7 linked regions of the Homo sapiens genome follow. Changing the gene in region 1 together with any one later gene gives a genetic interaction. Each region holds a gene or a part of one and is shown in the gene's direction. Other genes may lie near its edges. The genes, in order: CHEK2, RFC1, CDC14A, DAAM1, ERBB2, CDC6 and LLGL1.

Evidence for each region.
Region 2: changes in CHEK2 (region 1) and RFC1 are lethal when combined (synthetic lethality), as found in Homo sapiens cells (one large-scale study listed by BioGRID).
Region 3: changes in CHEK2 (region 1) and CDC14A are lethal when combined (synthetic lethality), as found in Homo sapiens cells (one large-scale study listed by BioGRID).
Region 4: changes in CHEK2 (region 1) and DAAM1 are lethal when combined (synthetic lethality), as found in Homo sapiens cells (one large-scale study listed by BioGRID).
Region 5: changes in CHEK2 (region 1) and ERBB2 together harm fitness more than expected from each alone (negative genetic interaction), as found in Homo sapiens cells (one large-scale study listed by BioGRID).
Region 6: changes in CHEK2 (region 1) and CDC6 are lethal when combined (synthetic lethality), as found in Homo sapiens cells (one large-scale study listed by BioGRID).
Region 7: changes in CHEK2 (region 1) and LLGL1 are lethal when combined (synthetic lethality), as found in Homo sapiens cells (one large-scale study listed by BioGRID).

Annotation. Positions count from the first base shown.
Region 1 is NC_000022.11:28,731,821-28,735,320, reverse strand, and holds part of CHEK2 (serine/threonine-protein kinase Chk2), read left to right. Parts: intron 1-593; coding exon of another isoform or gene 594-599; coding exon 600-918; intron 919-3,500. UniProt on the Homo sapiens protein: Serine/threonine-protein kinase which is required for checkpoint-mediated cell cycle arrest, activation of DNA repair and apoptosis in response to the presence of DNA double-strand breaks.
Region 2 is NC_000004.12:39,289,779-39,293,646, reverse strand, and holds part of RFC1 (replication factor C subunit 1), read left to right. Parts: intron 1-1,794; coding exon 1,795-2,008; intron 2,009-3,607; coding exon 3,608-3,799; intron 3,800-3,868. UniProt on the Homo sapiens protein: Subunit of the replication factor C (RFC) complex which acts during elongation of primed DNA templates by DNA polymerases delta and epsilon, and is necessary for ATP-dependent loading of proliferating cell nuclear antigen (PCNA) onto primed DNA.
Region 3 is NC_000001.11:100,355,204-100,359,368, forward strand, and holds part of CDC14A (dual specificity protein phosphatase CDC14A), read left to right. Parts: intron 1-4,165. UniProt on the Homo sapiens protein: Dual-specificity phosphatase. Required for centrosome separation and productive cytokinesis during cell division. Dephosphorylates SIRT2 around early anaphase.
Region 4 is NC_000014.9:59,191,318-59,195,482, forward strand, and holds part of DAAM1 (disheveled-associated activator of morphogenesis 1), read left to right. Parts: intron 1-4,165. UniProt on the Homo sapiens protein: Binds to disheveled (Dvl) and Rho, and mediates Wnt-induced Dvl-Rho complex formation. May play a role as a scaffolding protein to recruit Rho-GDP and Rho-GEF, thereby enhancing Rho-GTP formation. Can direct nucleation and elongation of new actin filaments.
Region 5 is NC_000017.11:39,713,563-39,717,460, forward strand, and holds part of ERBB2 (receptor tyrosine-protein kinase erbB-2 isoform a precursor), read left to right. Parts: intron 1-1,723; coding exon 1,724-1,797; intron 1,798-1,883; coding exon 1,884-1,974; intron 1,975-2,156; coding exon of another isoform or gene 2,157-2,177; coding exon 2,178-2,377; intron 2,378-2,708; coding exon of another isoform or gene 2,709-2,738; coding exon 2,739-2,871; intron 2,872-2,952; coding exon 2,953-3,043; intron 3,044-3,504; coding exon of another isoform or gene 3,505-3,606; intron 3,607-3,757; coding exon 3,758-3,898. UniProt on the Homo sapiens protein: Protein tyrosine kinase that is part of several cell surface receptor complexes, but that apparently needs a coreceptor for ligand binding. Essential component of a neuregulin-receptor complex, although neuregulins do not interact with it alone.
Region 6 is NC_000017.11:40,286,097-40,290,896, forward strand, and holds the start of CDC6 (cell division control protein 6 homolog), read left to right. Parts: upstream 1-1,782; 5' UTR 1,783-1,994; exon of another isoform or gene 1,995-2,036; intron 2,037-3,311; 5' UTR 3,312-3,324; coding exon 3,325-3,502; intron 3,503-4,800. UniProt on the Homo sapiens protein: Involved in the initiation of DNA replication. Also participates in checkpoint controls that ensure DNA replication is completed before mitosis is initiated.
Region 7 is NC_000017.11:18,228,237-18,232,401, forward strand, and holds part of LLGL1 (lethal(2) giant larvae protein homolog 1), read left to right. Parts: intron 1-1,704; coding exon 1,705-1,802; intron 1,803-4,165. UniProt on the Homo sapiens protein: Cortical cytoskeleton protein found in a complex involved in maintaining cell polarity and epithelial integrity. Involved in the regulation of mitotic spindle orientation, proliferation, differentiation and tissue organization of neuroepithelial cells.

The DNA of each region.
Region 1 (3,500 bases):
GATTCTCCTGCCTCAGCCTCCCGAGTAGCTGAGAATACAGGTGCCCGCCACCACGCCTGGCTAATTTTTTGTATTTTTAGTAGAGACGGAGTTTCACTATGTTGGCCAGGCTGGTCTTGAACTCCTGACCTCATGATCTGCCCGTCTTGTCCTCCCAAAGTGCGGGACTACAGGAGTGAACCCCCGCGCCTGGCCCCCTGTATATATGAAATTTAAATGTAGTGTTGATTGTATCAGTACATTTTTGGTTTCAGTCTTAATTTAAAAGAATTGGACAAATGTAAGCTTTTATGAGCCCCCCAGCTCAATTTTATTGCTTTTTACTTATTTGTAACCTTCAGATAATTTGTTTTTCCCTGTAGTTTATGGCTGTCAGATAAAAAACTGATCTGGTGACAATGATCTGGTGAAAAGCTCAGCCCAGAAGAACTATAGGTCTGGGCTGTTAGGACTTTTAATTTTTGGAGAGCATGTTTGCCCTGTTTTTTTTTTTTTCTTTTCTTTTGCTGTTGTAATAGGCCCATCATTTACTTTTTAATTTTAAGTCTTGTGCCTTGAAACTCACCTTTGTTGTTGGACACTTTCTTTTTGAGGTCGTGATGTCTCGGGAGTCGGATGTTGAGGCTCAGCAGTCTCATGGCAGCAGTGCCTGTTCACAGCCCCATGGCAGCGTTACCCAGTCCCAAGGCTCCTCCTCACAGTCCCAGGGCATATCCAGCTCCTCTACCAGCACGATGCCAAACTCCAGCCAGTCCTCTCACTCCAGCTCTGGGACACTGAGCTCCTTAGAGACAGTGTCCACTCAGGAACTCTATTCTATTCCTGAGGACCAAGAACCTGAGGACCAAGAACCTGAGGAGCCTACCCCTGCCCCCTGGGCTCGATTATGGGCCCTTCAGGATGGATTTGCCAATCTTGGTAAGACCCTTTGTTGTATAGTATCACGTTTTGTTCAGAAAAACACTTACAGAAAGTTGTATTACCAGGTGGAAGGTTCTGATTGGAGTTGTCCAGGTTTTTGGCACGTTGAACAAATAATTGAACATCATGCATGAACAAGCAATGAAAGCATAGATTTATTGAAGTGGAAGGCAATAGAAGCTAAAGTACATGTCACAGGATGGGAGCAGGCCTGAGCAAGTGGCTGCAGAGCCCTTGTAGCAAAGTCTTCTGGGGTTCAAGTACCCTCTAGAGGTCTCCCACTGTTTACATCCTATGTAAATGAAGTGCTGGCTCACAGCCCATTAGAGGCCAAAGTGAATTGGAGCTCGGCCATTCCAAGACTGGTGTGGATTGACGCCTTATGCAAATGAAGGTCCTAGAATGGACGGATCATAGGCCAGAGTGCAAATTCTTCCTTTTTTGTTTAGTTTCAGGAATTTTTTTTTTTTTTTTTTTGGCAACGGAGTCTTGCTCTGTCGCACAGACAAGTGCAGTGACGCCATCTCGGCTCGGCTCACTGCAGCCTCTGACTCCTGGGTTCAAGCGATTCTCCTGTCTCAGATTCCTGAGTAGCTGGGATTACAGACACACACCACCACACCTGGCTAATTTTTGTATTTTTAGTAGAGACGGGGTTTCACCACGTTGGCCAGGCTGGTCTCGAACTCCTGGCCTCAAGTGATCCTCCTGCTTCGGCCTCCCAAAGTGTTGGGATTACAGGCATGAGCAACCGTGCCCATCTATTCCAGGAAGTTTGCGTGAATTGGCCATAGATTCCCTGCCTTCAGACCCTATTTTCCTGCCTTAGTTAGTTGCAGCAGAATGCTTGAGCCACTCTTAGAATAATTCTGGAGTTTGAATGTGATAAAAGGTAAAACCAAAGAGGCAGTATTGGGTGTTGCCCTGGCTGTTACCTGCTGTGGATTCTGTTCATTTACTCTTTCAACAAATAATAATTGGACATTTACAATGTGCTGTCCATCCAAAGATCTGAAGGTAGCTTTGGACCCTCTTCCTAGAAAAATGCAGATTCACTCAAACTTGCAAACATTATCCCCTAATCACAAAAGCTTCACTAGTTAACCTCTGCTGTGGTTTGCCACAGCTTCAGAGAATCAGAGCTGTTCAGAATAGAGATGGCCATTTGTTGACTACTTGTTACTTGTTTTTGTCTCAAAATAGCCAACCTTGTGATTTAAACATGTTGACCCTTTCTGACACCTCCTGGTTCCAATAGTAAGTTTTGCTCTGCATATGTTTAAAATACACATGTGTGTATTTTAACATTGCCAGGCATGGTGGCTCACGCCTGTAATCCCAGCACTTTGGGAGGCCAAAGCGGGAGGATCACTTGAGGCCAGGAGTTCGAAACCAGCTTGGGCAACATGGCAAAACCCTGTCTCTCCTGAAAATACAAAAATTAGCCAGGTGTGGTGGCGCATGTCTGCAATCCCAGCTACTCAGGAGGATGAGACATGAGAATTGCTTGAACCTGGGAGGCAGAGGTTGCAATGAGCCAGGATTGCACCACTGCACTCCGGCCAAAAAAAATAGTGTTTTTTTTCCTTTCGCTTACATTGCAATGACCTCTTTAATAAACAAATTTGAACTTGGCATTAACAGGATAGAATATGTTAATATAAAGAAATGAAGGACTGATGTATCATTTTGTGTTTTGTCACTCACCATCCTTGTTTTATTTCATGTCTAACTTTGATATCTTGAAAAAACTATAAAAAATGGAGGAATATACCTGCATTCCACATATACAACTTTAAATTTATAAGTAGACACTCGAAGCTATTTTTAACTGATTTAAAATATATTTTTCAGACCGGGCATTGTGGCTCATGCCTGTAATCCCAGCACGTTGAGAGACCAAGGCAGGTGGATCACCTGAGGTCAGGAGTTTGAGGCCATCCTGGCCAACATGGGGAAACCCTGTCTCTGTTAAAAATACAAAAATTAGGCCAGGCGTGGTGGCTCATGCCTGTAATCCCAGCACTTTGGGAGGCCGAGATGGGCGGATCACCTGAGATCGGGAGTTCGAGACCAGCCTGACCAACATGGAGAAACCCTGTCTCTACTAAAAATACAAAATTAGCTGGGCATGGTGGCGGGCTCCTGTAATCCCAGCTACTCAGGAGGCTGAGGCAGGAGAATCGGTTGAACCTGGGAGGCAGAGGTTGCAGTGAACCGAGATCTCGCCATTGCACTCCAGCCTGGGCAACAAGAGCGAAACTCCATCTCAAAAAAAAAAGAAAAAAAAATTTGCGGGGCGTTGTGGCAGGCATCTGTAATCCCACCCACACAGGAGGCTGAGACAGGAGAATTGCTGGAACTTGGGAGGTGGAGGTTGCAGTGAGCTGAGATTGCGCTACTGCAGTCCCGCCTGGGTGACAGAGCGAGATTCCGTCTCCAAAAAATAAACAAATAAATAAAATACAATATATTTTTTCAGATAGGCCTATAGGTTTAGATGAGTGAGAAATAGAAATGGTGAGAAAGGGCTAAATGGGATACATCACCTTTAAAAGTAAGAAAACAAAGAGGCTGGG
Region 2 (3,868 bases), on another chromosome or scaffold:
TCATATTTAGGCCATTATTATCAGCAAAGACATTTATAGTGAATTCATAATTTTTAAAGTAAATTAAGACCTCCCTACTTTTTAACCCTGATCAAGTCACTGAACTTTTTGTAGGTCCGTTTCTCTTCTTTAAAAAATGGAAGAGTGATCTTATTGGTTTGTAACCTTTTTGGGAGTCATAGATGCTTTTGAGAATCTGAATGCTTTGATTTTTATTCCCCTGACAATGCACAGATCCACAAAGAAAACACTTTTAGGGGAATTACAGATTCCTGAGGTTAAGAACCCTTGGTTTAGGTGCACTAAATGGCATCTTTGACTTTTCTATGAGTCTATTAGAAGATGATGATACTGTAAAACATTGTAGAACAGTTTTGGAAATGGTTTCATGATTTCTGGGGGTACTGTGGCTTAGGGACTCACACTGCTTCCTTTAAGTACTAGCGTGCTTAATTATGGAAGACAATCTAGAGGAAATGGATGAAATTAAACTAGGAGAGTTTTAAAAACTCTTTGTCTAGGTAATAGTTGCGAGGGTGAGTCTAGATTTCTGATCAGGAAAAAAGCTGTGGCTTCTTATGGTTCACACATTCAGTTCCTTGAAGGCAGGAGCAGGACCCATAGACAATTTGTAAAGAATCATTTCTTTTTGCTTCTGATGCTGGTTCTGATAACAACAACTTTTGAAGTTTTACGTATACAGGCTGGGTGCGGTGGCTCACGTCTGTAATCCCACCACTTTGGGAGGCCAAGGCGGGTGGATCACCTGTTAGGAGTTTGAGACCAGCCTGGGCAAGATGGTGAAACCCTGTCTCTACTAAAAATACAAAAAAAAAAATTAGCCGGGTGTGGTGGCGGGTGCCTGTAATCCCAGCTACTTGGGAGGCTAAGTCAGGAGAACCTCCTGAACCCGGGAGGTGGAGGTTGCAGTGAGCCAAGACTGCACCACTGCACACCAGCCTGGGCAACAAGAGTGAGGCTTCGTCTTTAAATAAATAAATAAATAAATAAATAAATAAATAAATAAATAATGTATACATATAAATGCCTGGTTTGAAGATAGAGGCAGCTGGGTTGGAAAGATTTAGGATGGTGGCATTTGAAATATTGTTTTGTTCAGTTGCTTTCTGTCTTTAAGAAGTGACAACATTTAAGAGAGAAAGAAAGAGTCATTTTATGATAACATTCGAGTTCTCAGCAGACCAGAGACTGTTTCCCTAAACCTTCCTCTGGCCACTGTGGATCACTTTTTGATTTTGTGGGAACACTCTGTAATTTTCTTAGATTTGGAGAAAAGCCGGCTCTAGAACTGACGATTTCAGAGTAACAGTATTAGGAAATGTGAGGGAAGCATTCATATATGATTTTGTGTGTTATAATCAGGGACCAAAAGGTGTTATACACATTCACACACTTGAGATAGGGAATTTCATTGCCTTATACTGATGCTTTTAATATTTTGGAACTTGGAACGAGTCATATTTATGAACACAAAGAAACATTCTGTTGCCTGGGCCTTAAGAGTAGGGTGGAAGTAGAATCCACGTATGTTTTTCAGTCACTGATGTAGGTAAGTAGAAAATTTCCTTTGGGCACATTGATGTGTACCCATTACCCTCATGCTGTGGTGCTGGGCTTTCTAAACTACACCAGCTGGCTGTCAAATAGTAGGCATTCCATTCAGCATTATTGAAATTGGATTGAACTCTGCCTGATTAACTCAGTGCTGTTATGCACAGTATGACTTGAGTTGATACTTTGCTGTTGACTATGTCTCTTTTGTTGTGGTTTCAGAACTTACTCCAGCAAAAGGACTGTAAACATGGATTATCTGTCGCTTCTAAGGGATGCACTTGTACAGCCCTTGACCTCACAAGGAGTAGACGGAGTACAGGATGTTGTTGCACTTATGGACACATATTATTTGATGAAAGAAGACTTTGAGAATATCATGGAAATCAGCAGCTGGGGTGGCAAACCTAGTCCCTTTTCAAAGCTGGATCCCAAGGTAAATCATGTCACTCACTGGTTCTTCGTCACTTTCTATTACCAGGTTTGTACTGACAATACTTCGGAGGTGTTTTAGATGCTTTAAGATTTACTTCTTTTTCCCCTCAAATGCTTGTTGCTTCTTATGGCCTATATTTTCCAAAGATACTATTTGAATGCAGTATTAAGAGTAGACTTCTGGGCTTGACTTTACAATTTGTATTTTTATCTTTGCTTTATGCTCAGTGGAAAAGCAAGAAGTGAAATTTGAGGAGCAAATATAAATATATTCTTTATAAAGGATGAGTGGATGAGTCTAGGGAATTAAAAGTTGAGCGGTGAGCTCTGGTGGTAATGGGTTGTAAAAATAAAATATGTTTATTGGCTGAGGATTTGTACAAATTTTCTTTTTCTTAGTCTACCTAATCTGTGGATTCAGTATTTATTCCAGTTGGATAATCTTCTCTGTAATAATGTATCCCCACTTTTCTTATAATGAGACGAAAAAAACTAAAGTGATACATCATGAATATGTAACATCCAATACCCAACTCTTGCACCTGTGTAATGAATGCGTTTTAGAAGACATATTCTCTGTAGTTTGCCCTCCCCAGAATTTTGACCCGACTTTATGGTTATCAGTAAATTCTCACAGCAGACATCCATTGTTAGAATTCATGGACTAATTCAGGAATTATGTTTAGAAGCTTGAAGGTAAGACTTTCAAGTTACTTAGTATTTTGAAGTAACTACTCTTATTATGGAAAAGGTATCTAGTGTTTTGTGGAAATTAAAGGCCAACTTATATCTTGTGATGAGCTCCCCCAACCTTTTTTTTTTTTTTTGAGACAGTCTAGCTCTGTTGCCCAGGCTGAAGGGCAGTGGTGCGATCTCGGCTCACTGCAACCTCTGCCTCCCGGGTTCAAGCCATTCTCATGCCTCAGCCTCCCAAGTAGCTGGGATTACAGGTGCACTCCATCACGCCTGGCTAAGTTTTGTATTTTTAGTAGAAATGGGGTTTCCCTATGTTGGCCAGGCTGGTCTCAAACTCCTGGCCTCATGTGAACTGCCTGCTTTGGCCTCCCAAAGTGCTGGGATTACAGGCGTGAGCCACCACACCCAGCCGAGCCCCTTTTTGATTTACTGATTCACTGATTAACTTTGCTTACTACTTTGTAGAAATGTGGAGAATGCTGAATAGGTAAACATGATGACTTGAAGTGACCTTTTGTTTGTTTGTTTGCCTAAAGTTCCCAAATATATATATACGTATTTTTTTTTTTTTTAGACAGAATCTCACTCTGTTACCCAGCCTGGAGTGCAGTGGCGCAATCTCAGCTCACTGCAACCTCCACCTCCTGGGTTCAAGATTCTCATGGAGAAGCATGAGCCACTGTGCCCCACCTTCAGTCTTTTTTGTCATGGGCTCTATTAAGAATGTTATGAAAAATATGGAACTTATCCACAGAAAAATGCACGTACTTAGATTTACATGTATATACATAAATACTTTGCAAACAGTTGCAGGGGGCTCCCAGGGTCTCTTTAGGCTTACAGAGTTTAAAAGAATTGTTTGGGACTTAGATTTTTAAAAACTCCATCTACTCCTTTCATATAGGTGAAAGCAGCCTTCACAAGAGCTTACAATAAGGAAGCCCACCTTACTCCATACTCACTTCAAGCTATAAAGGCATCTAGACACAGCACAAGCCCATCCCTGGATTCGGAATACAATGAAGAATTAAATGAAGATGACTCTCAATCTGATGAGAAAGACCAAGATGCTATAGAAACTGATGCCATGATCAAGGTAGTATTTTAAGCCACAGACAGGAGAACCTCAAAATAGATGATCTTTCCTTGCCTGGTGAATAATAGG
Region 3 (4,165 bases), on another chromosome or scaffold:
TGTTGGGAATGTGCATTGTTGTGCCTCTGTTTTTGTGATTTTAGGTTTTGGGGGTCTCTCATGAGTCTGAGAGTGGGGATGGTGTATATATCATTATGTTCAATTCTACAGTACAGTGGTTGTTAATATGTCATTGAATGAGCTCTAGCCATGGAGATCTGAGTCACTTCTCTTGGGATTGCTAGGTGGTAGATCTAGCAGAAAATTAAGCCAAACTAAACACTGTGCATGATGGCTTTTTGATTTTAATATTGATAGATGAGGGAAATTTTTAATGTGATTTTCATGTTGGTATTTTGGGATAGGCCTACAAATCATATTCCTCTTATAGTCTACTGTTTTTCTGGTATCTTATAAGGAAAGACTTGCTGGAGAATCCATCCAATTTATATTGTGAGTTGGGATTGACATTTGAAATACGATGAGGACTTCAGCCTGGGCAGAGTGTGTACTTTTCTTAGTTTGAACTTACCCTACTGTGCCACAGTAATGGCTGTGGCTCTGACACCTCCAACTCCATCTTTTTTGTTACCCCAACATATTACATGGTGCTAGGTGATGCAGAGAATAAAACAATGTTGAATGCATATGTTACCTTCAAAGAGCTCCAAGCCTGTAGGGAAAATAACAGAACTGCAGTTTGAGGTATAGGAAAGATACCTGCCCAAAGAGAAATACAACCTCTATGCTAGGAGAGGCATTCACAGGCAGGTAGGGGCACATCTGGTGGAAGCGTTCAGCAAAGGCTTCGTGGAAGAGTTAAGATTGGCTTGAAGGATGGACAAGGTCTTATCAGGCAGAGACATGAGAGGAGGGATCTTGGAAAACAGCAAGTGTGAGGAGGGGAGAGGCTTGGGACGTGTGTTCAGGGAACAGTAAGTCCTCCAGTTTGCCTGGTGTGTATTCAGGGAACATGTAGGGGATGGAGAATGTGAAATTGAGATGTTGGCTGGGGACAGAATGAATGTCAGGGTGAGAAACCTGCAGTTTCTTTGGTACACCATGGGACTCTTGAGGGATTTGGGGCAGCCATGGTATGACTTGATTTGTGCTAATTACAAACAATGGGAAACATTTATTGAGCATTTAAATGTGTGCCAGATGCTGTTCTAGGTGCTCTATAACTATTAATTCATTGTGTTTTCACAACAATTCTGTGAGACAGGCACTATTATCCTTATTGTACAAAAAGGCATAGAGAAGCTGGGTCACTTGCCCAAGGTCACAGAAGTAAAAGTAGCAGAGCTGGAGTTTGAAACCAAGTCATCTAGTTGCAGAGGACATATATCCTTCTCAAAAAATTAATACAGTAGCATCATTTAAGAGGGGTTGTTAAGGAGATAAGAGCCCACTTAAAAAAATTCAGGGGGGACCAGGCATAGTGGCTCACGCCTGTAATCACAGCACTTTGGGAGGCCGAGGCAGGTGGATCACGAGGCCAGGAGTTCAAGACCAGCCTGGCCAACATGTTGAAACCCCGTCTCTACTAAAAATACAAAAATTAGCTGGGCATGGTGGCGTGTTCCTATAATCCCAGCTACTTGGGAGGCTGAGGCAGGAGAATTGCTTGAACCAGGACCTGGTAGGTGGAGGTTGCAGTGAGCTGAGATTGCGCCACTGCACTCTAGCCTGGGCTACAGAGCAAGACTCTGTCTAAAAAAAAAAAAAAAAAAAAAAAAATTCAGGGGAAAGAAACAAGTACCTGGATTAGGATGGTGACAATGGTGATGGAAAGAAGCGATCTGAAGCCATGTGACCTGGCAACACAGGAGGGTGGCGTGGAGGGGTGCTGAGGAAAAAGAGGGATCAAAGAAGTCCTTAAGACAGCTTAGGTTGTGGTGAGCCTACTGGAGCTCTTAACTGAAATAAGGAAGGAGGGTGGAATAATTGGCTTTGGTGGGAAGATCAGGCATTCCATTTTGGCCAGATTGAATTTAAGAAATTTAAGGGATATTTACATCACTGTTAGATATCACATACATTTGAGGTTCTTAAATTTGGGAATTTTCCCAAAGAGACTAATAAAGCTGTGAGAATGATGCGATTTCTGGGAAGATAGAGAAGGTCTCAAGGTCTGTATTTCACAAGTAGAACCAGGATGGGAGGAGCAAGGGAAGGTGGAAGTACGCAACAAAGAGGTGGACAAACACTGAAGGGGAAAGGAGAAAGGGAGAAGGACTGACTCCATCTCGTCAGCTCCACTTTGGGGAAGTATAGAATGAGAGAGACTGCAAAGCCCCTAGAAGGATGTCTAGTAACCCGGGCTCTGTCTGGAGGACGTCCTACAGCGAGAAAGATTTTGACTATCACATCATAATGTGCATGTCTCTGAGGAGAAGAATATATTTATATTCATTATCACACAGGCCTTTGTACTGTGTAATTATTTGCTGAATGTTTAAATTAAATGCTGCTTTTCCAGCTGGGTGTGCTTGTAGTCCCAGCTACTCTTGAGGCTGAGGCGACAGGATTGCTTGAGGCCTGCAGTTGAACTGAAAAGCCAGCCTGCCAGCCTGAGCAACATAGTGAGACCCCATCTCTTAAAAAAAAAAAAAAAAGAAAGAAATGCTGCTTTTCTGGCTAAATTATCACCTTAGAAGCGATTGTTTTTGAATCAGGAAGTAGACTCTTTAAATATTAGGCTGTGGATATTCTGGCCACAGCTGTGTTTTGCGCAGATGTTTCTTTAGTTATGAAAGGAGGACAGCATTCCATGATTGAAATGTCAACCTTCTGAGATGCTGGTGGAGAAAATTTAATGAGGTGGCCTCATGAGGTAAGGCTATTAAAAGTGAACGTTTGAATTATCTGCTTGATTTTTTAAAACAGAACTTATTACTATAAAGGCCTGGGCAGCTTTAATAAAATGAGGATGATAAGAAATCATCCTTTGTCCTTGGGTTATGATTTCACAGGTCAGAGTTAAAATCAAAGTATAGGCTAACACACTAGTGGTACAAAAATAGCTCCACAAAAAGGGAGCCTTTCAAAGAAGATTTATCTGCATTTGATTAAGCTACAAATAACACACCACTCCCTGGAAAGGCTTGTTCTTTGGTATTGGAATTGGGCCCCGTAATCCAAACAGGCGCTTACTTTTAATAACTTGGCTTACTTTTGTGTGGCTAAAAAGTTAGTGAAATGAAATATATTACTTGTTATGACATCTGTGTGCCCCTCCTAGTGGTGGTCATGGGTGTAGGGTTGGATGTTCATGGCATAGAAAGCCAGTTTGCTGGGAAGGATAGTGTATAGGGTCTTCATTTTCAGCCTGTCCATTGTCATTTCTTCTCTTTTTGAGTTGTGAAGAAAGGTATTGAAAGTGCAGGAAAGAGCTCTTTAGGGAGAAACTCTAGGGACTGAATTTTAAGCAGTTTCTGAAGTGACTTGAAGAATTTCACCAAATGTTTTAGCATGTTAAGAATGAGCAGCCTCTAATGAGAACTAATTAGCTAAATGGAAGATTTAAATAATTTAAAACATTCAATTTTCATTTAAACTTAATTAAAGCAGCCTGATATTAATGCATCCAGGAAGTTTTGGATAAGTAATTTATAGAAAAATGATTTCTTTTATCTTGTCTATAGCATAGTTTTGAGTCAAAATGTGAACATAGAATATTTATGAGAGAAGCATGGAAAAACTACTCTTGCCTAGAAATATTTGTGGGAATGCATATTTAGGTTAGAGGTAGGTCAGGAGAAACCCTTTTGGTTTTTAAATTTTTATTTCAAATTAAATGTATAGCAAGTAGGATAATTTAATGGAAGGTTGAATGCCACTTAAGCATATACACACATACACATATATATGATCTGATAGAGCCTTACGGTCATCATTTAGAACCTCAATTCTCATTATAAATTGCTATGATATAGACAGAAGAGGAGATTTGGTTGAACCTCGAGACAAATTTCATTGTGGGAATAATAATAAAGCCATAGCAACAACAACAGCAGCAGCAGCAGCAGCTAACATGTATAGCCCTGTGCCAGGCAGTGTTCTAAGTGGTTTACACGCACACATTAACTCAATTAATCCTCAGAACAAGCCTAGGAGTTAGATGCTGTTATTATCACTACTTAACAAAGGAGGAAGTAGAGGTCCAGAGAGGGAAGTATATTGCCTAAGGTCACTGAGCTGGTAAGGCAGAGCAGGGATGCAA
Region 4 (4,165 bases), on another chromosome or scaffold:
TCTTCTGCTTGTCTACCCTACTAGATTATAAGCTCCTTGAGGGCAGTGTCTTTGTTTTGTCCTTTTCTGTCCCCCCAGCATTTAGAGCAGTTTGTTCATTTGTAGGTCTTTAATAAATATATGTTAAACGAATATTAAGTAGCAGAACTATGATTGGAGATCCAAGGTCTATTATTTCCACTGATAGTTCTGTCATCCGTGGTAATATTCCCCTTAGCTTTTCTATCAAGCAGTTTCATTTCATCATAAACCAAAACTTGTCTGGCATAAAAGGCCTTCTATGTATTTGAAATAGACATATTTCCTAATTATTTGCTTTTAGAATACATTCACTCACATCGACTGTTTCTTTGTAGTTACAATTTCTTATTACCCCTGAACCAGGCATTTCTAGATTTCTCTCAGTTGCACTATCCTTGGCCCAGATAATCTTCCCAGGAGGTGTGTGACACGTGAATAGGGAGAGACACCAAGAGAAAGATACCCAGAAGCCTTTGCCAGGCCACCAGTGTCTCCCAGAAGAGCTGGGAGACAATAGTCCTCTCACCTGAGGCAGAGCCGTTCCGTAAACAGGATCAGTTGTTTCAGGCTGGTTGATGTGAAAGAAATGTGAAAGAACATTTGCCCAATATTTGTAACATGTTACCATCCAGTAGTCTGATTCTGTGGGTTTTCAGGAGCATAAATTAGTAAATTAGTGAGGAGGTGTGATAATGAAGAGGGTGTGGTGGGTCACATCCTTGGGTGGTGCTTACAGGAGCTCCATGAATAGGTGCTAAGGAATTTGAATCCTGGCTTTCTTGTTTTGTGGACATGTTCTGCTTGTTAAGGGGTGTGTGTGTGTGTGTGTGTGTGTGTGTGTGTGTGTGTGTGTGTGGTTTTGAGCTACTTTGTTTAAAAGGCTGCTTTTAGTGTTGGCACTATGGTCCTTAAAACAAATAAGGTGTTTACAAGCAAAAGTTCTGATTGAAAGTGTTTCATTTTGTAAATATTTGGGAGATGGCATAAAGAGAAACTTGAGGTCTTGTGTGAAAACACTTTAAAGTTGCAGCTGTTGGACCAGAGGAAACATGCTTTTCCAACAAAGCTTGGTATCCTTGAGTGCCCTAGGTGTTTGGTTCAGGAAATAATCACAGAGCTTGTAACTGCTGTGGGGCCCTCCCTGGCTTCAAGCCGTGCTCTGGTATTTCCAGTGTTAAGTCTATCCTTATATTGCCGGAAACAAAGCAAGGTGTCCAACTTGGGTTAGCAAACTTGTTTTCTCTCTAGAGGGGACACCAGTCAAAATAGAAGTTCTATATTCTGTTGTGATTTTTTCCTCTTTGGATGAGGAATATGGTGACTTATTTTGGTATTACAATTTCTAACTTGGTAATAGAGGTAATATTCTAAGTGAATACCAATCTTAAGTACGCACAGCATCTGTTGTAGTGGTTTCAAGACCTCAAAGTTTAGGCCGGGCGCGGTGGCTCAAGCCTGTAATCCCAGCACTTTGGGAGGCCAAGTCGGGAGGATCATGAGGTCAGGACATCGAGACCATCCTGGCTAACACGGGGAAACCCCGTCTCTACTAAAAATACAAAAAATTAGCCGGGTGTGGTGGCGGGTGCCTGTAGTCCCAGTTACTCAGGAGGCTGAGGCAGGAGAATGTCCTGAACCAGGGAGGCGGAGCTTGCAGTGAACGGAGATTGCGCCACTGAACTCCAGCCTGGACTACAGAGCGAGACTCCGTCTCAAAACAACAACAACAACAACAACAACAAAACCCTCAAAGTTTAGAGGAAATTGATTGCACAGGTACTATTTAAGAAACTGGTACTGAGAGCATTTTCTCTATTTCTGTATGTGGCTTGGAGGTAATGTCTGGTTGACAGATCAGGCTAGGGTGGATGATACCCCTCTTGAAGATGCATTCACTTAGCAAGTGTACTGTCTTTTATGTAGATTATATTATTTAGAGTGGCTGAGGCTGCTGATAGAGACCAGCGTTGAAGTGTGGATCTGAAGTTCACCCCCTTTCTCTGAGCTGTCACCTTGTTTGTAGCCCCACTGAAACAGGGACAGACGAACATGAGATTCAAGTTGATTTTAGTGACCTATATTTCATCCAGCAGATTTTTTTTTTCAGAAATAAAAGGTTACCTTTTAATTTTTTAGTATCCTTTCCACTGTTCTAGGAGCAGGGGGAGAACAGAGCATTTCAGGGAGAGTTTGCATTCATAGTCCACAAGTTTGCATACATAGAACATGTGTCTAAAAATGAACTGAATGTTAAGTCCTAGAAGCACAGCAACAAGTGTGCAGAGCCTTCCCCATCACTCCCAATTAATCTGGGGTTACCAAATACACCCTCAGCTTTGGTGAGCTTGTTTTCCTCATTGATGTTTAAGCGTTCCTGGTTTTTACTCTGTCTGTGACTTTCTGCAGTAATGGCTGTCCACGTCTGGAATGTGCTTCCCTCTGAGTGTCTGGATTATCTTGTGCTTTCATATCTAGCTCAGGTGCCACAGCTTCCACGAAGCCTTCCCTGCCCTTCCTCCTTAAAGCACTTAGCTTGACCACACAACACTTACAGCTAATTTGATACCGATATTGTATGTGAGGTGCCTACCTCATGCCAAGCCCTTTCTAATACTTTCCATGGGCTACGTCATTGACTGCACATAATTATACAAGATAGATACTTTTATTGCCATGTTCTAGATGAGGAAACTGAGGCACAGAGAAGTTAAAGAACTTGCCTAGCTTAGGCCACACAGCCTGTAAGTGGCAGACCAGGTTAGGGACTCAAGCAGTCTAGTTCTTTATACATCCTGATGTTGCCTGGTTTCTGACTTTCCGGCACGTTATTCTTTTCTCTGCAACTCGAGTTGGGGTAATCACAGCTTCCTTTGAGTCTCTTAATTCTCAGACAGTGCTGGGTCAGTAAGTCCTGGATTAATTGAGAGTAAAATGACTTCTTCATGTCACAGGTTCTTACAGCCTGATTTTCTGGAACAGAAAATGTTGTGTGAGATTAAAAATGTTGTTTTTGAGTATTTAAATGATAAAACTTTGGAGCTCTCCTTTGCTGTATGAACGATAGACAAATTATTTGAAAAAGGAAATGCTCTTATATTACAACTCTAAATCTGTTTGGAGCCTGTCCAGCATTAGACCTTATTTGTTAAGTGAGGTAACTTTTCACTGGGTTGAATCCCTCATCTGATAAAAGATCTTCTCACCCTGAACAGGGCCACAGAAGCCTGTGTTGAGAGTTAAGAGGGCCCATAATTTCTCAGCCTCCCTCTTCCCTGTAGTCTTTTAACATACATTGTGAAAGCTCTTTTGAAAAGAAAATAATGAACACTTGAGCAGTAGTCAAACATGTAATCTAATATTGGATAGCCTTAGATATTAAAATAAACTTTTTCCCCCCACCTCAGAAGAGATACTTTTATTTATTTTTACAGTGGAGCAAATTTGGTGCCAAATAAACAATTTCTATTCTTTTAAACCATAGCCACAGTTGTGAATTAAATGGGGAAAACCAGGGAAGCAAGTTCAATTTCCAATGCAGTTGGTGCGATTTCGTGACTTACAATAGATCTTTTCCTTTTGGCTTAAAACTAGATATTGTGCCACTTAGACAATATTTAATGAAGACAATTGACTAAAACACAAGGAAATAATAGGAAAGCTATGCCTTAACGGCATATTGCCAGGAAGGGAAACATGAAAACAAAAGGCTTGTTAGCCATTAGGCTACACAATCATAAAATTTTTTGAACAGACATTGATTTCAGAAGGTTTTTCTTTTTTCTTAATCATTCATCTTGTTATACTTTTTTTTTTTTTTTTTTTTTTGAGACAATCTTGCTCTGTCGCCCAGGCTGGAGTGCAGTGGTGCGATCTCAGCTCACTGCAAGCTCCGCCTCCCAGGTTCACGCCATTCTCCTGCCTCAGCCTCCTGAGTAGCTGGGACTACAGGTGTCCACCACCACGCCCAGCTAATTTTTTGTATTTTTAGTAGAGATGGGGTTTCACCGTGTTAGCCAGGATGGTCTCAATCTCCTGATCTCGTGATCCGCCTGCCTCGGCCTCCCAAAGAGCTGGGATTACAGGCGTGAGCCACCGCGCCTGGCCTCATCTTGTTATACTTTTTAAGTATGTCATTCACCTTTAG
Region 5 (3,898 bases), on another chromosome or scaffold:
CAACATGGTGAAACCCCATCTCTACTAAAAAATATAAAAAATTAGCCAGGCTTCCTGGCATGCGCCTATCATCCCAGCTACTTGGGAGGCTGAGGCAGGAGAATTGCATGAACTCGGGAGGTGGAGGTTGTAGTGAGCTGAGATTTCGCTATTGCACTCCAGCCTGGGCGACAGAGTGAGACCCTGTCTCAAAAAGAAAAAAAAAAAAAAGGGTCAGGCGCCGTGGTGCACACCTGTAATCCCAGCACTTTGGGAGGCTGAAGCAGGAAGATTGCTTGAGCCCAGGAATTCAAGAACAGCGTGGGCAACATAGTGAGATCCCATCTCTACAAAAAAACACAAAAAATTAGCCGGGCATGGTGGTACGCACCTGTAGTCTCAGCTACTAGGGAGACTGAGGTGGGAGAATCACCTGAGCCTGGGAGGTGGAGGTTGCAGTGGGTTGAAATCATGTCACTGTACTCCAGCCTGGGTGACAGAATGAGACCCTGTCTCAAAAAAAAAAAAAAAAAAAAAATTCCCTTTCACACTTCCTTTACCTCCACTCCCCTTTCCAGAGGGGGCCATGGTTAACAGTGTGTGTGTTCACCTAGACCGTTTATGCATCTGTAGACACACACACAGTGAAGTGTGGTTTTCGTCGTTTTGGTGGGGAGGTTGGTTTCTGTAAATGGGAACATATAGGGAGCACTGTCTGCACCTTGCTTTGAGAGCCGGTCATGACAGTTCCCATTGAACTGCCTTGTTCTTTCAATAGCTGCAGAGCAGGTGGCGGCAAGGAGAGGCAGCTAAGAGCCCAGACTTGGGAGCCAGACTGCCTGGGTTTGAAACCCGGCTCTACCACTTACTAGGCATGTGACCCTTGTGCTGTGCCTCAGTTTCTTCATCTGTAAAGTGGGGGCAAGAACAGTCCCAACTTCATAAGATGGTTATACCACCATGCCTGGCCAGATGATTATAAAGTTTGAATGAGTTAATATTTGTAAAGCTCTTAGAACAGTGCCTGGCAGATACTAGGTGCTCCTAAATGTTGGTTTTTATTATGTGGCTGGGTGGCTCGGGGTTTTATTTAACAGCTCCCCTATTTACTAATAGACATTTAGATCATGTTCCATTTTCACTCTTACAAACAGTTCCACTTTGTGTGTGGCTCTGGGAACATGGGCCAGTGTCTCCCTAGGCCACATTCCTAGAAATAAGATTTCTTTTCTTTTTTTTTTTTTTTTGAGACAGAGTCTCGCTTTATCGCCAGGCTGGTGTGCAGTAGTGTGATCTCGGCTCACTGCAACCTCTGCCTCCCGGGTTCAAGTGATTCTCCTGCCTCAGCCTCTCGAGTAACTGGGACTATAGGCGCGCGGCACCACACCCAGCTAATTTTTGTATTTGTAGTAGAGATGGGGTTTCACCATGTTGGCCAGGATGGTCTCCATCTCTTGACTTCGTGATCCGCCCGCCTCGGCCTCCCAAAGTGCTGGGATTACAGGCGTGAGCCACTGAGCCCAGGCAGAAATAAGATTTCTAGATCAAAGGATATAAATACTGTTTTGATAGATGTTGCCGAACTAAGGCCTGGGCTTTGAAGCCCAGGATGGGAACAGCTGGGCTCGATGGGCAAAGGGTTTGAGTGAAGGCATTCATGGTGGGGAGTGGCTGGCATGGCCAGTGCTGGGAGTGATGTCCACCCTGTTCCTGGCCCTGCTGACTCCTCTCCTGACCCCTCCAGGGACCCAGCCTCCAACACTGCCCCGCTCCAGCCAGAGCAGCTCCAAGTGTTTGAGACTCTGGAAGAGATCACAGGTGGGCTCTGTCTCTGCATCCTGTTCTGCAGGGGCTGGGAGTCCTTGTCCTGTCCCCACTCCTTTAATCTCACCCTCTGCCTGCAGGTTACCTATACATCTCAGCATGGCCGGACAGCCTGCCTGACCTCAGCGTCTTCCAGAACCTGCAAGTAATCCGGGGACGAATTCTGCACAAGTGAGCACTGAGAAAGAGGGGGCCTGATGGGGAGGAGTCCCAGGGAGGAGTCCCTGTGGGAAGCTTTGGGCCTGAGGGAGTACTCCTGTAGCAGTAACCTTTCCATGAAAGTCTGCAGAGTGTGCTGGGGATGGAGGAAGATGAGAATAGCCTTTGCTGACCGGGAAGGGGTCCGTGGTAAGGTGCCCACCTTTCTCCCATAGTGGCGCCTACTCGCTGACCCTGCAAGGGCTGGGCATCAGCTGGCTGGGGCTGCGCTCACTGAGGGAACTGGGCAGTGGACTGGCCCTCATCCACCATAACACCCACCTCTGCTTCGTGCACACGGTGCCCTGGGACCAGCTCTTTCGGAACCCGCACCAAGCTCTGCTCCACACTGCCAACCGGCCAGAGGACGAGTGTGGTAAGACAGGGAGCCCAGTGTGCGCACTCCCCATCTGCCAGCACACAGCAGTGCCCAGGGGGCCCTGGCAGCAGCGTTCTTGGACTTGTGCAGACTGCCCGTCTCTGTGCACCCTTCTTGACTCAGCACAGCTCTGGCTGGCTTGGCCTCTTGGCATGGCTTCTCTAGCTGGGTCCTACCTGCCTTGGCATCCTTCCCTCCCCCTCTGTTTCTGAAATCTCAGAACTCTTCCTCTCCCTACATCGGCCCCACCTGTCCCCACCCCTCCAGCCCACAGCCATGCCCACAGCCAGTTCCCTGGTTCACTTGGACCTGGGGCCTCCCCTAAAAGTCCCCTGCGGTCCCTTCCTCCTCACTGCAGTGGGCGAGGGCCTGGCCTGCCACCAGCTGTGCGCCCGAGGGCACTGCTGGGGTCCAGGGCCCACCCAGTGTGTCAACTGCAGCCAGTTCCTTCGGGGCCAGGAGTGCGTGGAGGAATGCCGAGTACTGCAGGGGTATGAGGGGCGGAGGAGAGGGTGGCTGGAGGGGTGCATGGGGCTCCTCTCAGACCCCCTCACCACTGTCCCTTCTCTCAGGCTCCCCAGGGAGTATGTGAATGCCAGGCACTGTTTGCCGTGCCACCCTGAGTGTCAGCCCCAGAATGGCTCAGTGACCTGTTTTGGACCGGTGAGCTGCTGGCGGGCTCAGAGCTGGGTGGAGGGGGGCAGCGAGGGGGATTGCCAGGGACTTGGCAGGATGGCGAGATGCAGTAGGGTGTGCTATCTGGTAAAATATCCCTGGAGAGGGCTCAGCGCTCAGACCTGAACAGCAACAGAGTGGCAGAAAAGGGGCCTGGGGGACACTGGGGCCCTTCAGACTATGAAAAGGTTCTAAGGAGGTCTGTGTTGGTGGCTGTGACTGTGGCTGTGCTAGGGTGGTGAGCCCTGTGGGCTCAGGCGTCAGACTACCTGGATTCAGACCCAGCTCCTGCTTCCAACCTTGGTTTTTTATTCCTAAAATGGGTATTGTAATAATACCTACCTTGCTGGGGTGTGGCAAGAATGAAATTAAACAGGGCTTGGCACAGTGAAGCACGGGAAAGGCTTTCTACAGAGCAGTGACTGTTGTTACTCGCTGTTACACCTTAGGTAATGCGTTTTCCTCTCTGGGTGCCTCCCATTTTCTGGCTCAAGTCCCTGCCCAGGATCAAGCTTGGAGGAGGGCCCCGAGGGAGGGGCCACAGAGACTGGGTGAAGAGCAAGGGTGTTTGTCCCAGGAGCATGGCGAAAATTGCTGCTGGGTGGCCTTGGGAAGCACAAAGGGGACCCAACTAAGGGCCTGATCCTACTGCCCTGGGGGTGTCAGTGCCAGCCCCCCACAAATCTTTTCTGCCCCCCCCAGGAGGCTGACCAGTGTGTGGCCTGTGCCCACTATAAGGACCCTCCCTTCTGCGTGGCCCGCTGCCCCAGCGGTGTGAAACCTGACCTCTCCTACATGCCCATCTGGAAGTTTCCAGATGAGGAGGGCGCATGCCAGCCTTGC
Region 6 (4,800 bases), on another chromosome or scaffold:
CCATCTAGTCCTTTTAAAAGCTTCCACTGTGGCCAAGAGCGGTGGTTCATGCCTGTAATCCCAGCACTGTGGGAGGCTGAGGTGGGTGGATCATGAAGTCAGGAGTTTGAGACCAACCTGGCCAACATGGTGAAACCCCTCTACTAAAAATTCAAATATTAGCCAGGCGTGGTGACGCGTGCCTGTAGTCCCGGCTACTCAGGAGGCTGAGGCAGGAGAATGGCTTGAACCCAGGTGGTGGAGATTGCAGTGAGCCGAGATCATGGCACGGCACTCAAGCCTGGGTGATAAAATGAGACTTGTCTCAAAAATAAAAAAAAAAAAAGCTTCCATTGTGTGGTAACTTTCTCCATTCATGGCAGCCCATTCTCTTCACTTTTGTAGTTTTCAGCTGCTAAAAAGCCTTCACGAAATGTACTCCACCATCTCTTCCTGTTTAGAACCTGAATCTGTCTAATCATCCCCCTATGATAAAGTGGTCAAGAGTTTGATTTTCTGTCAGAGTTCAGAGTTCAAATTCTAGCTCTTCCACTTACTAGTTGTGTGACCTTGGGCAAGTTTACTCAACTCCCCTCTACTGTAGTTCCCTCATTTGTAAAGTGAAATAACACCAGGTTCATGGGGGTGCTTGTGAAGATTAATAAGGTGATGTAGGTAAAATACTGAGCACAGCCCCTGGCATACACTTAAGCACTCAATATTGGCTCTCTTCATGAACTAGGTACCAATTCACTGATGATCGTAATATTGTTGCTTCCCTCTTTCTAGGCTTTATGGCTCTATTTTGTTTGTTACTGAGGGGTAAAAGATAAATGTTTACCATCACCTAGAATTGGGTTCTGGCCTCTAAAGGAACCTGAGGCTTAGATGAATTATTGGCTTTGGAAGCTGGCCTTCAAATTACTGCGCTAATTTATATTTTTCATTAAAAACTCAGCTTGCCTCTTCTATATAGCTGTCTTCCCTGGCCCTGAAACCCTAGTGTTTCGCCATAAAAGATTTTAAAATTAAGGGGTCATAATTCCCTCCCCATGATGTGTGGATTAATGGTAAGAAGATGCACAGAACATAATATTCTTAGGTTGAACGAAATAAAAGTAAAGAGTTGGCTCTGTTTCTCACCTTTGAAGCACAAATCAAGAGATACTATGATGAAGCATAGTTTTTCTTTATATAGGTGTGTAGAACTTTACCATAAAAATCACTAGTTCAGCCATCAGGAGATCTGGATCCTAGGCTCTTCACTGTCACCAAGATGCTGTGACCTCTAACCTTGTATAGAAGTTTGCTTTGTACTTTGCGAGGTTGAGCATTAGAGAGGTAAGGAAAGTGCCTAGCATCATACCTGGCGCACAGAACCCAAAACGGTAGGTATCATGTAGCAGTTCTGAAAATCTAGCCCATCAGGATGATGCAAATGGGTACTTTAGGCAGTGAGAAGGGGAACCACATCTTGACACTTCCAGTCGAAGGAAGAGTGCGACTGCGCGGCAGCAAAGACTACGCCTCCCAGCGTGCTTTGCGGCGGGCCGGCCCGCTTTACCCAGAGTCGCCCTGCCGCAATCGCGCGTCTTTCCACCGAGGCCCCGGATGTAGATTCCCTCCCCCGTTCAGTGGTCGTGGCCTCACAGCGACTCTAAGACTTGGGGCTCTCTCATTGGCTGTAACTCTTCCACTGGATTGGTAGCAAAAAAAGAGGCGGTGCCCAAGGCGAAAGGCTCTGTGACTACAGCCAATCAGAATCGAGGCCGGGCTTTGGCGGGAGGTGGGAACGCTGTGGCCATTCGGATTTGGCGCGAGCGCGGCTGGAGTTTGCTGCTGCCGCTGTGCAGTTTGTTCAGGGGCTTGTGGTGGTGAGTCCGAGAGGCTGCGTGTGAGAGACGTGAGAAGGATCCTGCACTGAGGAGGTGGAAAGAAGAGGATTGCTCGAGGAGGCCTGGGGTCTGTGAGGCAGCGGAGCTGGGTGAAGGCTGCGGGTTCCGGCGAGGCCTGAGGTGAAGTGAAGGGAAAAGAGCTGAGCTCGCTGGAGGTCTGAGGTCGGGATCAGGGAAAGGGCAGGTGCCCTCGGGGTAGTTCTAGCAGTTATGCGTGGTGTGAAGGAGGTGAAAGTTGTAGGAAGGAAATATTCTGGGGTGCGTTGAGAGCTGCCTAGAATGAGGACTGAGTGCAGGGGCGGAAAGAACTGAGGGAAGACTGAGCTGCAGTGTGAGGGCTTGGGATAGAAGAGACTAAATGTGGCGGGTGCTGGGCTGAACTGGTGATAAAGACACCCCGCGTGCCTGGAGGGAGGAAACTAGAAGTTCTATATAAATCAATTCATGTAACTTTTTTTTTTTTTTGAGACGGAGTCTCGCTCTTGTCGCCCAGGCTGTAGTGCAGTGGTGCGATCTCGGCTCACTGCAACCTCTGCCTGCCGGGTTCAAGCCATTCTCCTGCCTCAGCCTCTTCATGTAGCTGGGACTACAGGCGCCCGCCACCACGTCCGGCTAATTTTTTTTTTTTTTTTGAGACGGAGTCTCGCTCGGTCTCCCAGGCTGGAGTGCAGTGGCGCGATCTCGGCTCACTGCAAGCTCCGCCTCCCGGGTTCATGCCATTCTCCTGCCTCAGCCTCCCGAGTAGCTGGGACTACAGGCGCCCACCACCACGCCCGGCTAATTTTTTGCATTTTTAGTAGAGACGGGGTTTCACCGTGTTAGCCAGGATGGTCTCGGCCCGTCTCGGCCTCCCAAAGTGTTGGGATTACAGGCGTGAGCCACCGCGTTTGGCCGTAATTTTTGTATTTTTAGTAGAGACGGGGTTTCTCCATGTTGGTCAGGCTGGTCTCGAACTCCTGACCTCAGGTGATCCGCCCGCCTCAGCCTCCCAAAGTGCTGGGATTACAGGCGTGGGCCACCGCGCCCGGCCCATTTCAGGTAACTTGTTATTGCATCGCTCAATTGGTTAAGAACTTGGGCTCTGGCACCAGATGCCCGGGGTTACATTCCTGTTTTTCTGTGACTTTGGGCCACTGTTTATCTCAGTTTTCTCATGTGTAAAATAAAGGCTAATAATAGTACCTACTCCTAAGATCGTTGTTAAACGAGTTGGTACCTAAAGTGTTTATAACAGCGCCCTTCCACGTAGTAGGTAGACAACAAATGTCAGCTGTTCTTGCATAGATTTGGATGTGAAGCAAAAGTGAATGCTAAAATAAGTGTGATAACATAATTAGGAAATAAGTGTTAATCATCAGTATAAATAAATTCCATGTTAGTTATTTTCTCTTCACTTTCACATATTGACTAGTTGTCCTCTTATTTTTTTTAATCTAGCTGTGCTGTCGTCATGCCTCAAACCCGATCCCAGGCACAGGCTACAATCAGTTTTCCAAAAAGGAAGCTGTCTCGGGCATTGAACAAAGCTAAAAACTCCAGTGATGCCAAACTAGAACCAACAAATGTCCAAACCGTAACCTGTTCTCCTCGTGTAAAAGCCCTGCCTCTCAGCCCCAGGAAACGTCTGGGTAAACCATCCATTATATCACTTTTTCACTAGCAGCTCGTGACCTTTCTTTTCTTGGTAAGATGTGTGTCCTTTGAAGGAGCTTTCTAAGTTCAGTTAAGACTTCTTTTTTTTTTTTTTTTTTTTTTTGAGACAGAGTCTCGCTCCATCTCCCAGGCTGGAGTGCAATAGTGCGATCTTGGCTCACTGCAACCTCCGCCTCCTGGGTTCAAGCGATTCTCCTGCCTCAGCCTCCCAAGTAGCTGGGATTACAGGCGCCCACCACCAAGCCTGGCTAATTTTTTTTTTTTTTTTTTTTGGATTTTTAGTTGAGACAGGGTTTTGCCATATTGGCCAATCTGGTCTCTGAACTCCTGACCTCAGGTGATCCAACTGCCTCGGCCTCCCAAAGTGCTGGGATTATAGGCATGAGCTACCGCTCCTGGCCTAAGACTACTCTTCATTTTAGTTATTTTCAGAATGGTTGCTAAGTGCTTACCGAACTCCAGAGTTAGACACTTACTGAGGTCACTCTGAACTACTTAATAAGTCTGATCTTCAATTCCTTAATACTGAACTTAGTTCTGTCAATGTTTTAAGTTACCTTGTAGTTACATGGTATTATGAAACTTACCTCAATATTTGTGAAATTAAAAGAAACAAAAACGTGACATGATGAATATTTTCCATCCTTTAGGACAGTGATTGGTAATTCTTTCTTGTTTTGGAACATTTATTTTTAAATGGGGGGTAATTTGGTTGTTTCTGGAGACATTTTTGGTTGTTACAGCTGGGGGTTGCTACTGGCATAGTGGGTAGAGGCCAGGGATGCTGCTAGACATTACAATGCACAGGACAGCTCCTTGACAATGAAGAATTATTTGGTCCAAGATGTCAGTGGTGCCAAGGTTGAGAAAACCTGTTTCAAAATAGCCTTACAATTTCATCCTACTAAAACCCATTTGGTTTCTACTAAATGCAGTAGTCCCCACTTATCCATGGGGGATACATTCCAAGACCCCCAGTGGACGCCTGCAATCGAGGACAGTACCAAACCCTACATATACTGTGTTTTTGATTTGATAACCAAGTCAGCTACTAAGTGACTAGTGGGTGGATAGCATATACAGTGTGGATATGCTGGCTGAAGGGATGATTCATGTCTTGGGTAGGATGGTGCGGGATTTCATCATGGCACTCCACAGCATGCAATTTAAAACTTGTCAATTGTTTATTTCTGGAATTTTCCATTTAGTATTTTCAGACTGAGGGTAACTAGAACGGTGGATGAAGGGACTACTGTAGTAAGATCAGTGGTGC
Region 7 (4,165 bases), on another chromosome or scaffold:
GTGGCCAGGGCGGCTGCTGCAGCCAGGGTGGCCTTGGGAGGCTTCTCTGAGGAGATTACTCCTGAGCGACAGGAAGTGCTGGAGGAAGTGCGTTCCAGGCAGAGGGGCAGTAGGTGCAAAGGCCCTGAGGCACAAGCCTCCCTTAGCTGGGAGCCCCAGGAGGATCCTGAGCAGGGGAGGGACAAGGATCTGGCTGTGGCTTTCATAGGATCCCTCTGGCCTCTGTGGGAACAGACTGTAGTGAGTACCAATCCAGGCACGTGACGGTGGGGCCTGGAGCAGGGAGGGAGGTGACTTCTGTGTGTTTTGAAACTGAGTTGATGGGGCTCAGAAATGGACTGGACGTGGGGTATGAGGGAAGCAGATGCTGGACAGTGCATGTAACCTCCTTTCCTCGTTTGTAAAATGGGAAGGCTGTGGGGATTTGCGATGCAGTGTCCCGTCTCTGGACCCTGGTTGTAGCGAGGGACTGGCTAGACAAGGTCAGGTGCAGCAAGGGCGTGGTATTATTGGTGGGAGAGAGAAGCCCCAGCCAAATCGCCAACTCTGTCCTTAGGTGGGCTTACTGTCCCAAGGGCCCAGATGAGAGACTGAAGCTTGGAGAGTACTGAGTCTTGGAGAGTACTGTGACTTGCCCAAGGCCAGACAGCTAGGCCGTGACCAAACCAGCTGCCCAGAGGGCTCAGTCCCCACCTGGATGGGCAGAGGCAGGCAGGGAGGGAGGTTCGCGTTACAGGCTGGGAACTGGGGTTTCTTACAAATGTGCATCTTCCTGAGGCAGTGGGTCAGGAATTACCAGTGGTAAAAGTGAAAAATAAATAACAACAACAAGATAAAAGGAGTTACCAGTGGCCCACGTGGGTGTCCTGCACTGGTGTTCAGGATGGGGCTGGAGCTCAGCTGTGCAGGCTTCCCAGGGAGGGCACAGCCAGGCCAAAGACAGGAGACTGGTGCAGAAAGGGTGTGCTGTGAAAGGGGCAGGGGAGCGGGTGGGGAGCTGTTTCATCGACACTCTGGGCACACAGACCCCCTTAACACCATCTCCGCCCCTGATGGTTATGGGAGTCATGTTGCCCAGCTGTTGGCAGGTGGGGAGGTGGGAGGATGCCTTCGGGGTCCAGGCAGAAAGCTACCCCTCTCTGGGCCTCTGTCTCCCTGTGTCTGGGAGGAGTCAAAAGCCTCTGCCTAGCTGATCCTGGATGTTGTCCCTTGACCTCTGACCTCCACTCAGGCCTGTGTTTGGGGAGTGTCATGGTCATCTTGCGGGACTCCTCCGCAAGCTTTAGTCTGTGCCTCTAAAAATGGGGTGCAGAGCCCTTCATGGAGCAGGTGGGGCCTCATCAGTGCCTGCACCTCTGTGAGCCTTGCTTCACCTGTTTGTTGCTGGAGCCTCCATGCAGTGGGGCCCACATGAGCCTGTGTGCATTGAGGGGCACAGGGGCTTGGCAAAGGGCGGGCCTCTGTGGACTATGCACGCGGTACAGTCATGGTGGAGGCTAGGGGTTTAGCCACCTCCCCACCAACTGGAGGCATGATAACCCATTTCACAGTTGAGGACGCTGAGGCACAGAGCAAGTAGACCTGCCTCCTACCCCCAGTGTGTCAGCTGCAGACCCTGGAGGCTGCCTTGGGGTGGGCCTCAGGGTGGGCCATGGCAGAGGTGCCTGGGAGTGCTTACCCCCAGCAGCCCTCCCCTCCTTGCAGACTGTGGAGCATGGCTTCCCCAATCAGCCCAGCGCCCTGGCCTTCGACCCGGAACTTCGCATCATGGCCATCGGCACCAGGTCTGGGGCTGTCAAGATGTATCCTTTGCAGGACAGGTGTTCAGGGTCTGTTCAGGACCACCTGCCTGTAGTTCCCTGTGCTCTGGGGTCCCAGTCTTGGCAGTGTCCAGCTCGAGAGGAGGACAGAGGTGCTCTGATGGGCAGTAGTGGGGGCTTCTGCGGAGGTTGGCGTGGCTTCTGTACCTGAGACAACTGTGCAGAGATGATGGGGTCCTTTTGCTGAGAGACGGGTGGTGGGGGGTCAGTTTGCAGTAGCACAGCTGTCCCTTGCTACGTGTCAGCCAGCCAGTTACCTAGGCGACCCTGCCATCGTCCCAGCAACTCTGGGGAGGCCAGGCAGAAGGCTGGGCTATGATACCCATGGAGGGTGGCAGGTGGGCTGGGGGCCCTGGTGAGCTGATGCACACATGTGTGAATGTGAAGACACATGTGTTCAGCAAAGGGGCCTGGGGGCAGTGCCAGGCTCGGCATGGTGAGCACAGCACGGCCCCCACCTGGATACTGGCTGCTGCACAATGGGCTGTGTGAGCCACACAAAGCGGGCATTTTCCCTGCAGGCCTGGGGTGGGGGTGGGGGCAGGCCGGCAGCTCAGTGTCTCCTTGCCAGCCCTGGAGAATCCCACCCCAACTGCTCTTGGGGAAGCCGAGGTGCCAGGGTCTGGCTGATGGCGGCTTGGTGAGGGGTGCTGACCCCTACCCCTCCTGTGTGGCCTTCTGGGTTTCAGTATCCTGGTTTCAGACATCAGTTCCCAGAAAATGTGTCAGTGCTGGGAAAGGGGAGGGTGTGGGATGGGGGTCTCCTCACCCCAGGACTGGGGGCACTGATCAGGCAGGGATGGGACTCTGAGCCTGTGGTTTGTGAGCTCTTTGCCTACTCTGGGGAGTGTGGATGGGCTGAGATGTCCCCTTCTCTCCCATGGCCCCAGCGGCCTCTGTTGGTGAGTGTGGCAGTGCTCTGGGCCCCACATGCTCCGCTGCCTGGCCTGCTGCTCCCACTCCTGTGGGTGCTGCGCTGCGTGCGCACATGTGTCCCTGCAGCCTTCAGGTGTCCCTCCTGTGTTGGGGTCTCCAGTGCACTTGTCCTCAGGCTCAAAAAGAACCTGAAGTGCAGATGAGGAGACTGAGCCTCAGAAAGGAGGCTGGAGCCCGGGGTCCTCTTCCCTTTTTCCCCTGACTGCCACTGCCTGGAGCCCCTTGGGTTGGGAAACTGAGGCTGGAGAGGGCCAGCCCTGGTCACTAGAAGCTGCCCCTCCCCCTGCCAGGCCAGCCCCATCTCCTTGACGACCCTGGTTCCCGCCCAGCTGCTCCTGTCCCCTCTTTTGTCCCTTCTTCGGAGTTTCTCGCCAGGCTCCTGTAGGGAATCTGAGCTCAAGCTCCAGGCAACGGCTCCTGTGTTGTCACCGGGGCAACGTTGCTGACTCCTCCCTGCACCCTCTGTCATGGGGCCCCCTCAGGCCCTGCTGTCCACCATCAGCCCTGGAGTTGCCGGGACTCAGGCACTGACACTGGGCACTTCAAGCAGGTCATCCACCCCCTCCAAGTCTGTGTGCTCATCTGTGAAATGGGCAGGCTGGAGTCTCTCCTCCCTCATGATGGCAGTTGTTGGCTGCCTGCTTTGGAGGGAGGTGGGTTTTTTTTGTTTTGTTTTGTTTTTTTGAGATGGAGTCTTGCTCTTTGTTGCCCAGGCTGGAGTGCAGTCGCACAGTTTTGGCTCACTGCAACCTTTGCCTCCCGGGTTCAAGCAGTTCTCTGCCTCAGCCTCCCAAATAGCTGGGATTACAGGTGCCTGCCAGCATGCCCGGCTAATTTTTGCGTTTTTAGTAGAGACGAGGTTTCACCATCTTGGCCAGGCTGGTCCTCAACTCCTGACCTTGTGATCTACCTGCCTCGGCCTCCCAAAGTGCTGGGATTACAGGAGCGAGCCACCGTGCCCAGAGGAGGTGGGTTTTCTTACCCATGGCTGAAGTTTGGCCTGAAGCTGTGGGAAAAGGCAGCCTGGACTCTTCTGCCCCCTGGCTTTCTTGTCCAGGCCTGGCCTTGCACCTCTGGCCTGCCTGATCCCATCCGGCAAGGCGCAGCTCCCAGAACCCATAGACACACGGAGCTGAAGTGGAGCGGAGCCCCATCCTCTCACCAGGCTGAGGCCAAGCCTGCTGGGTGTGTTTATTCTCACTTGATCTGCAACAGTCCTGTAAAGTGGGAGTCACTGGCCCAATTTACGGGAAGTGAAGGTCCTATAGCAGCACCTGACTTGCAGGAGTGAGTGGAGCCTGCACACTGATCTTGGGGATACTGTAGGGGTGCAGAGTGGGAGCTTTAGGGAGGGGGCCTCCGTTCTTCAGGGAGGACTCCTGGATGGTCAGGCCCATGCCGGGGCCCAC